2 separate regions of the Homo sapiens genome follow, and region 2 is linked to region 1. Evidence: fine-mapped expression QTL. A gene starts in region 1. The other region holds a variant in brackets. All regions are shown on one strand. Distances are between the middles of the regions.

Region 1 (5,390 bases):
CCATTAATCCAGGATTGACAAGAATCCCTAATTAATTTAATTAGGCGTGGATTTTGCGTTGGTGTCACGACTTAGTTAAACACTGGGGAGCTGGATAGACCCCGCGGGGTGGGGCCAAGAGGAAACTGACAAGTGCGCAGCTCTTAGAGTCAGTCAGGTATCCCGACACTGCATCCTTCCCTACAGCCTTGCTTCGAGTCAGGGTGCCTCGCAATGCTCAGCTTCGCATTGCTTTTCCTCGTCCCTGCCCTGCATCAACCGCCCAGCAGTTTACAGGCCCCGCATCCCATTCCCGCATCCTGACCCCGCATCCCAATTCTGCATCCCCGCCTCTCCCTCACAATCCCACCCCTGCCGGCCGTAGCTCCACCGCCCAGCATCATCCTGCCCAGAGACAGGGTTGCCTGCACCTTCTCCGACCCGCGCAGCTTCTCTTAGGAGCTTCCCGGCTCGCAGGCAGGCTGAGTCCGGGTCTTCTCCAAGCTCCTCGCCCCTCGGTCCGTGTTATTCGCTCTATTATTCGTGTCCTGGAGCCCAGCTGACTCCTCTATGGACAGACCCCGCTAAAAGGGACCAGTCGATTTAACAAGTTTCCCCAGCAGCTGTTAGCTGACAGATCTCATTTTAAAGTGTTTCCTTAGCGCCCGGTCAAGGACAGCTCGACTTCGTTCGTTTCCTCTCTGAGGTCTCAGAACTCCCACCCTTCTCCCTTACTCTCTGCACTCGGACCCCTCTATGGTGAATTACAGGACTTCTTCTTTAGCATCTTGGGAAACATCCGAGTTTATTTACTAATTTGAAAAACAAGAGATTATCCCTCTTCGAGTCTGAAAAAAAAATCGACGTTAAGTTTGTACCCCCTCTAATTTCATTTATTACGGAGAGCTAAAAAAGAGACGCTCGCCAGGAGTAAAGGTCTCTCTGCCTACCCCCCCCACCACCCCGCTTACGATTTAAAATTCTATTTCTGGGCTATTTTCATCGGAACGGTTTGTTACGTTAGAGGAACATCTATATTCCTGAGTCATTTGTCTGTATTGTGCCGGACAGGGCTTGCTGTGAGAAGTGTGGCTATGCAAATACATACTCACAAAAGAATATTTACATATGATGTTATATTTAAGTGTGTAAACAAATATACCTCTAAGTGTGGCTTAGGGGACATTTTCAAGTACTCTGAATATTAATGCAGACTTTCTGGAAGTTAAAGGTAACTTGATCATTATTTTGGATCTAATACTCTTAGTAAAAATAAGAGGAATTACAGAACATTAATATGTATATCTTCCGTATATTGGTTAAGGCATCAAAACAAATTAGCAGATAATTTAAGAAGTTCCGTCAAAACAACCTGAAACACTTGCAAAAAGAGAACACAATTATAACTTAATATATTAGTGTTTCTCAAATAGATGTAGATAGAAGCTGGATATAACCTTATGTTATACTACAATACTCACATTAAAATGTTCATGTTTGGTGAGTTTAAGGATTATGTATATCATGCTTTTTAGAAACGTTGTTTTCCCTTTTTAAAACATTTCATTTTTTGCCACTTTTAGGAGAGCTAATGTCTATAATTTTTCCGCAGCTATAGCTTTTAGGTATGAATACATTGTTATCAGTACTTGCTTTTGTTTTGTTACACCACAAAAGGGACAAAGTTTCAAAGTTATACGAATTTAGAAACAATTTCACATTGAGTCTTGGGTTACTCTTTGTAACTACTTTCTGATATTATCAGAGGAAAATAATCATACAACTTTAGTCCTTTATGAAAATCTGTTTTTAAGATTATTTAGCAGAAGGGCCAGTAATAGGGAGAGCTAAGAGGATACGGTGCTCAAGGTGCTCTCAAACTGAGGTGTTAAATACATATTCACAAATAACTCAAAAATAACCACTGTTAGAAGTCGGTTAAGGAATCAGGAGACCCACCAGCTACTTGTTTGCCTTTTTAAGTACATGACTTTTAGGTTTGAAGTCATATTTCATCTACTGAGCTTGAGGGAAAGATGACCACTTTGAAGGTAATCAGGGAAGTCACAGACACAACTATTGTGTAATTCAAACCAATAAATTTTCCCATGATCTCAGCTTTTTGGCTCATTGCATATTTAGGAATAGTAGTGTTGATAACAGATGGAGCCATGAGAAATCTTTAGTGTCTGACCACAGATTTCCACTGGCCTAAGGGAAGTTACTTTAAAAAATATTTCAAGGTTTTAAATTCATACATTAATAAATGCTCACAAAGTTCCAATGATGTTGTTTCATTAAACAGCAAATATCTTCCAGAAACAGGGCATTTCAAAATACAGTTTTTGTTTAAAAAAAAAAAAAAGCATTTATGGTAAAGCTCAGCTGACAGTCTGTGGACAGATGCACAGGTTCCAATAAAATTCAGGACCCCAAGGGTTTCCCCAGCTCTTGAATTATTTAAAATATACACGTAGTGTTGTAGTAGTTAAGTTTTAAAACGGTGCCTCAAAACTGGCTAGTTAAGGTACATTATTTACGAAAAATATATTGTGGAGGTGATTTTTCACCATCTCAAATGTCTGCGGAAAACTGTAGCTTGGTTATCTAGCAGTGGTGAATGAGTTGATTCTCATAGTCGACCAAAACCCAGGCCAACAATTTATTTATCTTTTTAGCTTTGCTTAAGAGTAAATGAGGAAAAAATTTCCATGTAAGGAAAAATAAGTAATGTAGTATGAATTACAGAAAATGCTGAGTCTCTTTAATTTCTATTGGTTTAAATAAAAAAACTCCACACACCTATAAATTTGAGTTCTCTTTCAGAAGAAACCGCTCCCCGCCTCGCCTCAGGCAGCTCTCTCCTATTCCTCTACTAACCAGTTACTTTAATCTGAGAAACTAATTTGCACTCAACTTGTGAGTGCCTTCACCTTCAGGGCAGAAGAAACACCGACTTTTAATGCATTTTTGCAAATAAATCATTACAATTTAATCACACACGACTCTATACAGACACACTCCCATGATTTATTATCGTTGGGCGAGTTTCCCCCTCCCCCAGCGTGAGATAACCAATTTTGTTTCGGGTAGGTGTCATAAACAAAACTTCCTACGATGCAGATTTGTTTACTGATTACCCATGACGATAACGACGACTACTAAGACAATAACACTCTCCAGTCCCACCTTTATTGCTTTTGGTAACAATAAAATCAAAATAAACAGGCACGCAAAACAAACGCCAAACAAAAAATCGGCCGCGTTACAATCTACTCCCTCGGCATTCCCAGCGCCTGGCAGCGTCCATCGATGCACTCGATATCTCGGCTGAAGCTGCCTGGCGCTAGAACCAGGAAGGCGCTGAGCTTAAACTGAAGCAAGTTCGGTGGACGCCGGCGGCGCCCTGATCTAAAGAAACGACTCAGGGACTGCGGCGCTTGCACGTCAACGGGAGGTGTGAGCCCAAAGGTCTGGACCCAGGTGATGCCCACGACCAGGGCCTGGGGAGCGGCAGCCGTGGCTGCGGAGCTCCGAGGCCCTGATCCGGCGAGAGGCGACGCGGGGCCTGGCGCAGTTTGCGGCTCAGTGTCTGTGGAGGGTGGGCTGCGGCCTCGGGGCGTGCGCAGTGTCACCGTGCGCATGCGTCCCGCACCTGGGAGGCTCCGGACTCCTTGGGTCAAGGCTGGTGGCTGTAGGGTGGGTGGGTGGCCGCAGGCCTCAAGCTTGGCCTTCTGTCTTGAGGACATGTCGGAGAGTTCGCCGACTCCTCCCCTCGCCCCACGTTCCTGGTTCTTCATAGCTGCTTTTGGGTTTCCTGGCTCATCTTGCAATATAAGCCTGGCGCTTCCTCACTAGCTCTAGGTAGGGTGGAGCAAGAGGGAGGCTGGATTCTGGTGCCCTCTATCCCATCCACTCCACTGTCCCTGCCTTAGATCCAGCTCTCTTTCTGATTCCGCCCTACCCTTTCTGGCTCACACTGGCTTGCTGAGAGAAGTGGTGCAGGGTGAAATAGATGTTCCTCTCTTGAAATATAAATATGCTCGCCTTAAACACACTATATATTCCTTTGACTTCTGTACTGGTGGCATGTGACCAAGAGCATATGGCTCTGTTTACTTTTGCAAGATGTTACAATGCACCGTAAGGCATGTTGCCTGCTCTTGATTTTAGGTTAACCTTGACGTAATTTCTCTCTCAGAGGTTGTGTATCTTTAAATGCACACTGGAAACCTAAACAAAAAAATATTTTTTTACACTTTCAGAATTAGCAGTAACCCAATTGTGTTCCAGCTAACTAGGTAGTAGATAAATAAATTCAAATGTCTTATGTTGTCACAAGAAAGCATTCGAGTTGTCATCTTTGAACTTAGATGTATTATAAAAGTTCTAAGTGAAGGAGGTAAGCAGAGTTCCCAGGTTTAAGATTTGGAGCAGGTGTGACAGTTGCAACCTTGGGGGAAACTAGGTATCCTTTAAGAGCCTCTCTAGTCTTAGAGTTTATAAATATTCACTTTCTTTGCAGGCAAAGATTTCATGCTAAGTGATATAACACTTTATGTTTTTCAATAAGAGGGCTAAAAATGTCAGAATCTGAAACGACAAAAACAGCTGGCACCTTCTGTTAATTGGCCTTGCCAACTCAACCAGTCTCACAAAGAGGGGTGTTATGAATTGGAAAAGTTCTGAAAGCGGGTTGTTTATAGTAGATCTATAGTTGTATTTCCTGCTTTCATGTTCAAACCATTGGGGATAAATTCCTATGATTGATCATGCTTTTTTAAAAAGAGAGATGCTTGCAAGTTTTTAATTGTGATGGGAGAAGTGTTTTGACAGAATTCTTTATCTCTTTTGAGATAAAGAGTTGTGTACTTGTTTATGGATTTCTTAATATGTTAGTTTTCACCCCAGTTTTACTTTTCTTCTTTGAGGTGGATTTCCCATTGAAATAACCATTGTTTTCACTTTTTCTGGCCATGTGTCCAGAATCAAGAAAATTATAGTTTGATATACTGAGTGAGTAGTGGAGAAGTAATTATAAGCTATCATGTCCTTTGGAAATCTTTGTTCTTCAAACTGATTGCCTGTTTTCTGAAAGAGATAACTGCTTCTTGTACCCTTATCAATAACTGGACAAAGGAACTACTTGTGTAGTCCTTTGAGTTCTCTTTTCTTGAATGACCACATGTTGGCTTTACCTCTTCAATCAGGCACGTGAACTTTACATTAAGATATTTCTGTAAATTGATCTCCTCCTGTAGTCATTACATGCCATGGCTTCAGTTCTGTAGTGGGAGTTGTTGGGTGAGTTTTGCAACCACGAGGCTACAACCAGGAAGAACTAGAGTGAGAACAGGAAACCAAGAGCTATAGGAGCTCTGTCCCATGTTGTCTCTTTCACCTACAGATAG
Region 2 (5,390 bases), 330 kb after region 1:
TCAGAAATATTAGAGAAACCAGTTGGGCGCAGTGGCTCATGCCTGTAATTCCAGCACTTTGGGAGGCTGAGGTGGGTGGATCACCTGAGGTCAGGAGTTTGAAACCAACCTGACGAACATGGTGAAACCCCATCTCTAATAAATATACAAAATTAGCTGGGTGTGGTGGCGCTGCCTGTAATCCCAGCTACTTGGGAGGCCGAGGTAGGAGAATTGCTTGAACCCAGGAGGCAGAGCTTGCAGAGACCCGAGATCACCCCATTGCATTCCAGCCTGGGCAACATGAGCAAAACTCCATCTCATAAGAAAAAAAATGAAAGAAAATAAATATTAGAGAAATCACTTTCAGGTGTTTGAAGTGAAATCTCTTGCATGGTTTTATGTTTTTATTAATCGTACATAAGCATTCAGCTGCTTAACTTATAGGTCTTAATTTTTAATAATGTTATTAAATGGCCCAAAAAGAATAATGTATCTGTCTGCTTCTCCTACAGTCTGTTGGAATGTTAACAAATGGAATGATAGGACAATTTCTATGATTCTCTAAATCTGGGTTATGAAGTGTATCTTTACTTTCTGACTTCTTGGCAGTATTCATTGAGTCATATATTAAGCATCTGTTGTTTAGCAATATATTGAGTACTAGGGTTAAACAGATGAGCTGAAGAGACAAAGTCTACTAAAACGTTTTGAAGATCTACGATCTTATCTTGGCAAAATACAAACAAAGACTTTTTTAAATATATTGGCAACAAGATATTAACAAAAGAAAGAACCAAACACCCAAGGTATTGTGCTATCAGTAGGGTTTTTTTTTTATTTTTGGAGCAAGAATATTCCTGCATCCTGGATCATGAGGCCCATAATAACATGATTAAGATTTGGGGTCACAAGATGTGTTATTTAACAGATAATCTCTCCAATTCCTAATAAACTTGTGTATTCTCTTCTGTTATTCTCAAGTAATACTTCTCAAAGTGTAGAACCTAGAACTGCAACATTAGCATCACATGGAACTTGTTAAAAATGCAAAATCTCAGAATACAGCAATACAGTAGAAGAATTATAACTTGTGTGCATCTGATAACACAACTTCAGGATACATAAAGCAAAATTGACACGATTGTGAGGATAAACTGTGAATCTTGTCACCATGGTGAGAGAAGTATTAAACTAAACAACAAACTTACAGTATGCTCTAGTGAATACAAAGGACCCTGAACTCAAGATTTAGGGAATATACAGGCATACTTCAGAGATACTGTGGGTTTGATTCCAGACCACCACAACAAAGCAAATGCCACAGTAATGCAAATCACAAATTTTTTGATTTCCCTACCAGTGCATATAAAAGTTATGTTTATACTGTACTGTAGTCTATTAAGTGTATAATAGCATTGTCTAAAAAACAATGTACATGACTTAATTAAAAAATATTTTATTACTAAAACATGCTGACAAGTCATCTGAGCCTTTAGTGAGGAGGGTCTCACCTTGATGTTTATGGCTGCCCATTGATGAGGGTGGCGGTTGCTGAAGGTTGGGATGGCTGTGGCAGTTTCTTAAAATAAGACAGTGAAGTTTGCAATGATTGACTCTTTCATAAAATATTTCTCTGTAACATGCAATGCTATTAGATAGCATTTTACCCACGGTAGAATTTCTTTCAACATTGGAGTCAATCCTCTCAAACTGTGTTGCTGCTTTATCAACTAAGTTTTTGTATAATACTCTAAATCATTTGTTGTCATTTTTAACAATGTCCCCAACATCTTTAACAGGAGTATATTCCATCTAAGGAACAATTTTTTTTGTTAATACTTAAGAAGCAATTTCTCATCCCTTCAGGTTCAGTCACATCTTCATGCTCCACTTCTAATTCTAGTTCTCTTGCTATTTTTACCACAAACTGCAGTTACATCCTCCACTGAAGTCTTGAGCCCTTCAAAATCATCCATGAGGGGTTTGAAGCTACTTCTTCCAAACCCCTGTTAATGTTGCTATTTTGACCTCCTCCCAGGAATCACAAATGTTCTTAATGGCATTTAGAATGGCAAAATCCTTTCCAGAAGGTTTTCATTTACTTTGGAAGTCCATCAGAGGACTTTCAAGTCTTATTGTTTAAGAAATACATTTTATAGGGCTATAGCTGCCATAGCCCTAGAAAATGTATTTCTTAAACAGTAAGACTTGGAAGTCAA[T/A]TTTTCTGTGATCTGTGGGCTGCAAAATGAATGTTCTGTTAGCAGGCGTGAAAACAGCATTAATCCTCTTGTATGTCTCCATCAAAGCTCTTGGGTGACCAGGTATACTGTCAATAAGCAATAATATTTTAAAAGAAATCTTTTTTTTCTGAGCAACAGATCTCAACAGTGGGCTTCAAATAATCATAAACCATGCTATAAACAGCTGTGCTGTTATCCAAGCTTTGTTGTTCCATTTATAGAGCACAGGCAGAGTAGATTTAGCATCATTCTTAAGGACCCTTAGATTGTTAGAATGAGAAATGAGCCCTGGCTTCAAGCTTAAAGTCACCAGCTGCGTTAGCCCCTGACACGAGAGTCAGCTTGTCCTTTGAAGCTTTGACACCAGGCATTGACTTCCTCTCTCTACCTATGACAATCCTAGATGGCATCTTCTTTCCTAGAAAGCGGTTTTGTCTGCATTGAAAATCTGTCATTTAGCGTAGCCGCCTTCATCAATGATCTTAGCTAGATCTTCTGGATCACTTGCAGCAGCCTTTCCATCAGCATTGCTGCTTCACCTTGCACTTTTATGTTATGAAGATTACTTCTTTCCTTAAACCTCACAAGCCAACTTCTGATAGCTTTAGACTTTTCTTCAGCAGCTTCCTCACCTCTGTCAGCCTTCACAGAATTTAAGAAAGTTAGGACTTTGCTCTGGATTAGGCTTTTGGCTAAGCTTAATGGTATGGCTGGTTTAATTTTCTACCTAGACCACTCAAACTTTGTCCCTATCAGCAATAAGGATGTTTCACTTTCTTACCATTTATGTGTTCACTTGAGTAGCACTTTTAATTTCTATCAAGAACTTTTCCTTTGCATTCACAATGTGTTGCACTATTTGGCACAAGAGGCCTATCTTTTCCCTCATCTCAGCTTTTGACATGCGTTCTCACTAAGCTTAGTCATTTCTGGCTTTTCATATGAAGTGAGAGATGTGTGGCTCTTCCTTTCACTTGAACACTCAAAGGCTATTGTAGGGTTGCTGATGGGCCTTATTTCAGTATTGTTGTGTCTCAGGGAACAGAGAGGTACAGGGAGAGGGCAAGAGACAGAGGAACAGCCAGTTGGTGGCACAGTCAGAAAACACACATACACTTATCAATTAAGTTAATTGCCCTATATGGGCCTGGTTTGTGGCATCCCAAAACACAGCAGTAGCATCAAAAATCACTGATCACAGGTGACAGATATCAACAGATGTAATAATAGCTAAAAAGCTTAAAGTATTGTCAGAATTACCAAAATGTGTCTTCACAGAATTGGAAAAAACTACTTTAAACTTCATATGGAGCCAAAAATGAGCCCACATTGCCAAGACAATCCTAAGCCAAAAGAACAAAGCTGGAGGCATCACACTACCTGACTTCAAACTATACTACAACGCTACAGTAACCAAAACAGCAAGGTACTGGCACCAAAACAGAGATATAGACCAATGGAACAGAACAGAACCCTCAGAAATAATACCACACATCTACAACCATCTGATCTTTGGCAAACCTGACAAAAACAAGCAATGGGGAAAGGATTCCCTATTTAATAAATGGTGCTGGGAAAACTGGCTAGCCATATATAGAAGGCTGAAACTGGATCGCTTCCTTACACCATATACAAAAAGTAAGTCAAGATGGATTAAAGACTTAAATATTAGACCTAAAACCATAAAAACCCTAGAAGAAAACCTAGGCAATACCATTCAGGACGTAGGCATGGGCAAGGACTTCATGTCTAAAACAGCAAAAGCAATGGCAACAAAAGCCAAAATTGACAAATGGGATCTAATTAAACTAAAGAGCTTCTACACAGCAAAAGAAACTACCATCAGAGTGAACAGGCAACCTGCAGAGTAGGAAAATTTTTTGCAATCTACTCATCTGACAAAGGGCTAATATCCAGAATCTACAAAGAACTCAAACAAATTTACAAGAAAAAAACAACCCCATCAACAAATGGGCGAAGGATATGAACAGACACTTCTCAAAAGAAGACATTTATGCAGCCAAAAGACACATGAAAAAATGCTCATCATCACTGGCCATCAGAAAAATGCAAATCAAAACCACAATGAGATACCATCTCACACCAGTTAGAATGGCAATCATTAAAAAGTCAGGAAACAACAGGTGCTGGAGAGGATGTGGAGAAATAGGAACACTTTTACACTGTTGGTGGGACTGTAAACTAGTTCAACCATTGTGAAAGACAGTGTGGCGATTCCTCAAGGATCTAGAACTAGAAATACCATTTGACCCAGCCATCCCATTACTGGGTGTATACCCAAAGGAATATAAATCATGCTACTATAAAGACATATGCACGGGTATGTTTATTGCGGCACTATTCACAATAGCAAAGACTTGGAACAAACCCAGATGTCCATCAGTGATAGACTGGATTAAGACAATGTGGCACATACACCCCATGAAATACTATGCAGCCATAAAAAAGGGTGAGTTCATGTCCTTTGTAGGGACATGGATGAAGCTGGAAACCATCATTCTCAGCAAACTATCGCAAGGACAAAAAACCAAACACCACATGTTCTCACTCATAGGTGGGAATTGAACAATGAGAACACTTGTTCACAGGAAGGGGAACCTCACACACCGGGGCATGTCGTGGGGTGGGGGTAGCGGGGAGGGACAGCATTAGGAGATACACCTAACATAAATGACGAGTTAATGGGTGCGGCACACCAACATGGCACATGTATATATATGTAACAAACCTGCATGTTGTGCACATGTACCCTCGAACTTATAACAACAACAACAACAACGAAAAAAACGAAGTATGCCTACACAGTTTTTCCAAGTACCAATTAAACATTTCCAAAATGGACCATTTTTTAATAAAGCAAATCTAAACAGGCCAATGATTATTAATAGACTATATTCTTTGATCCTTATGAAATTAAATCAGAACATCAATGTAAACAATATAAATAAAGTTTAAAGCATTCTTCTGAGTAACTCATGGGTTCACCAAAAAAATCACATTGGGATAAATATATTTAAAATTCTGTGTTTCTAAATAAACAGTTTGAGATTTTTTTAAAAAACAAAATCTTGACCATATTCAGCCGTCAGTCTGTTTTGCAAACTTTCCATTTGATGCTGACACATGCTGAAGTTTGAGATCTACCGC

Evidence for each region.
Region 2: its variant is fine-mapped to the expression of RSRC1 in whole blood (INTERVAL, PIP 0.94).

The regions. Positions count from the first base shown.
Region 1 is chr3:158,106,762-158,112,151 of GRCh38, forward strand. RSRC1 (arginine and serine rich coiled-coil 1) reads left to right here and starts at 3,328. Exons shown (of 10, transcript NM_001271838.2): 1 at 3,328-3,462. RefSeq lists enhancers at 1-350, 2,989-3,490, 3,292-3,641, 3,491-3,990, 3,852-3,901.
Region 2 is chr3:158,440,642-158,446,031 of GRCh38, forward strand. The region is part of intron 6 of RSRC1 (arginine and serine rich coiled-coil 1); the gene reads left to right. Among named protein-coding and RNA genes, the nearest start is that of UC.134, 83 kb to the right of the region's middle. The variant T/A (reference allele first, on the strand shown) is at 2,202.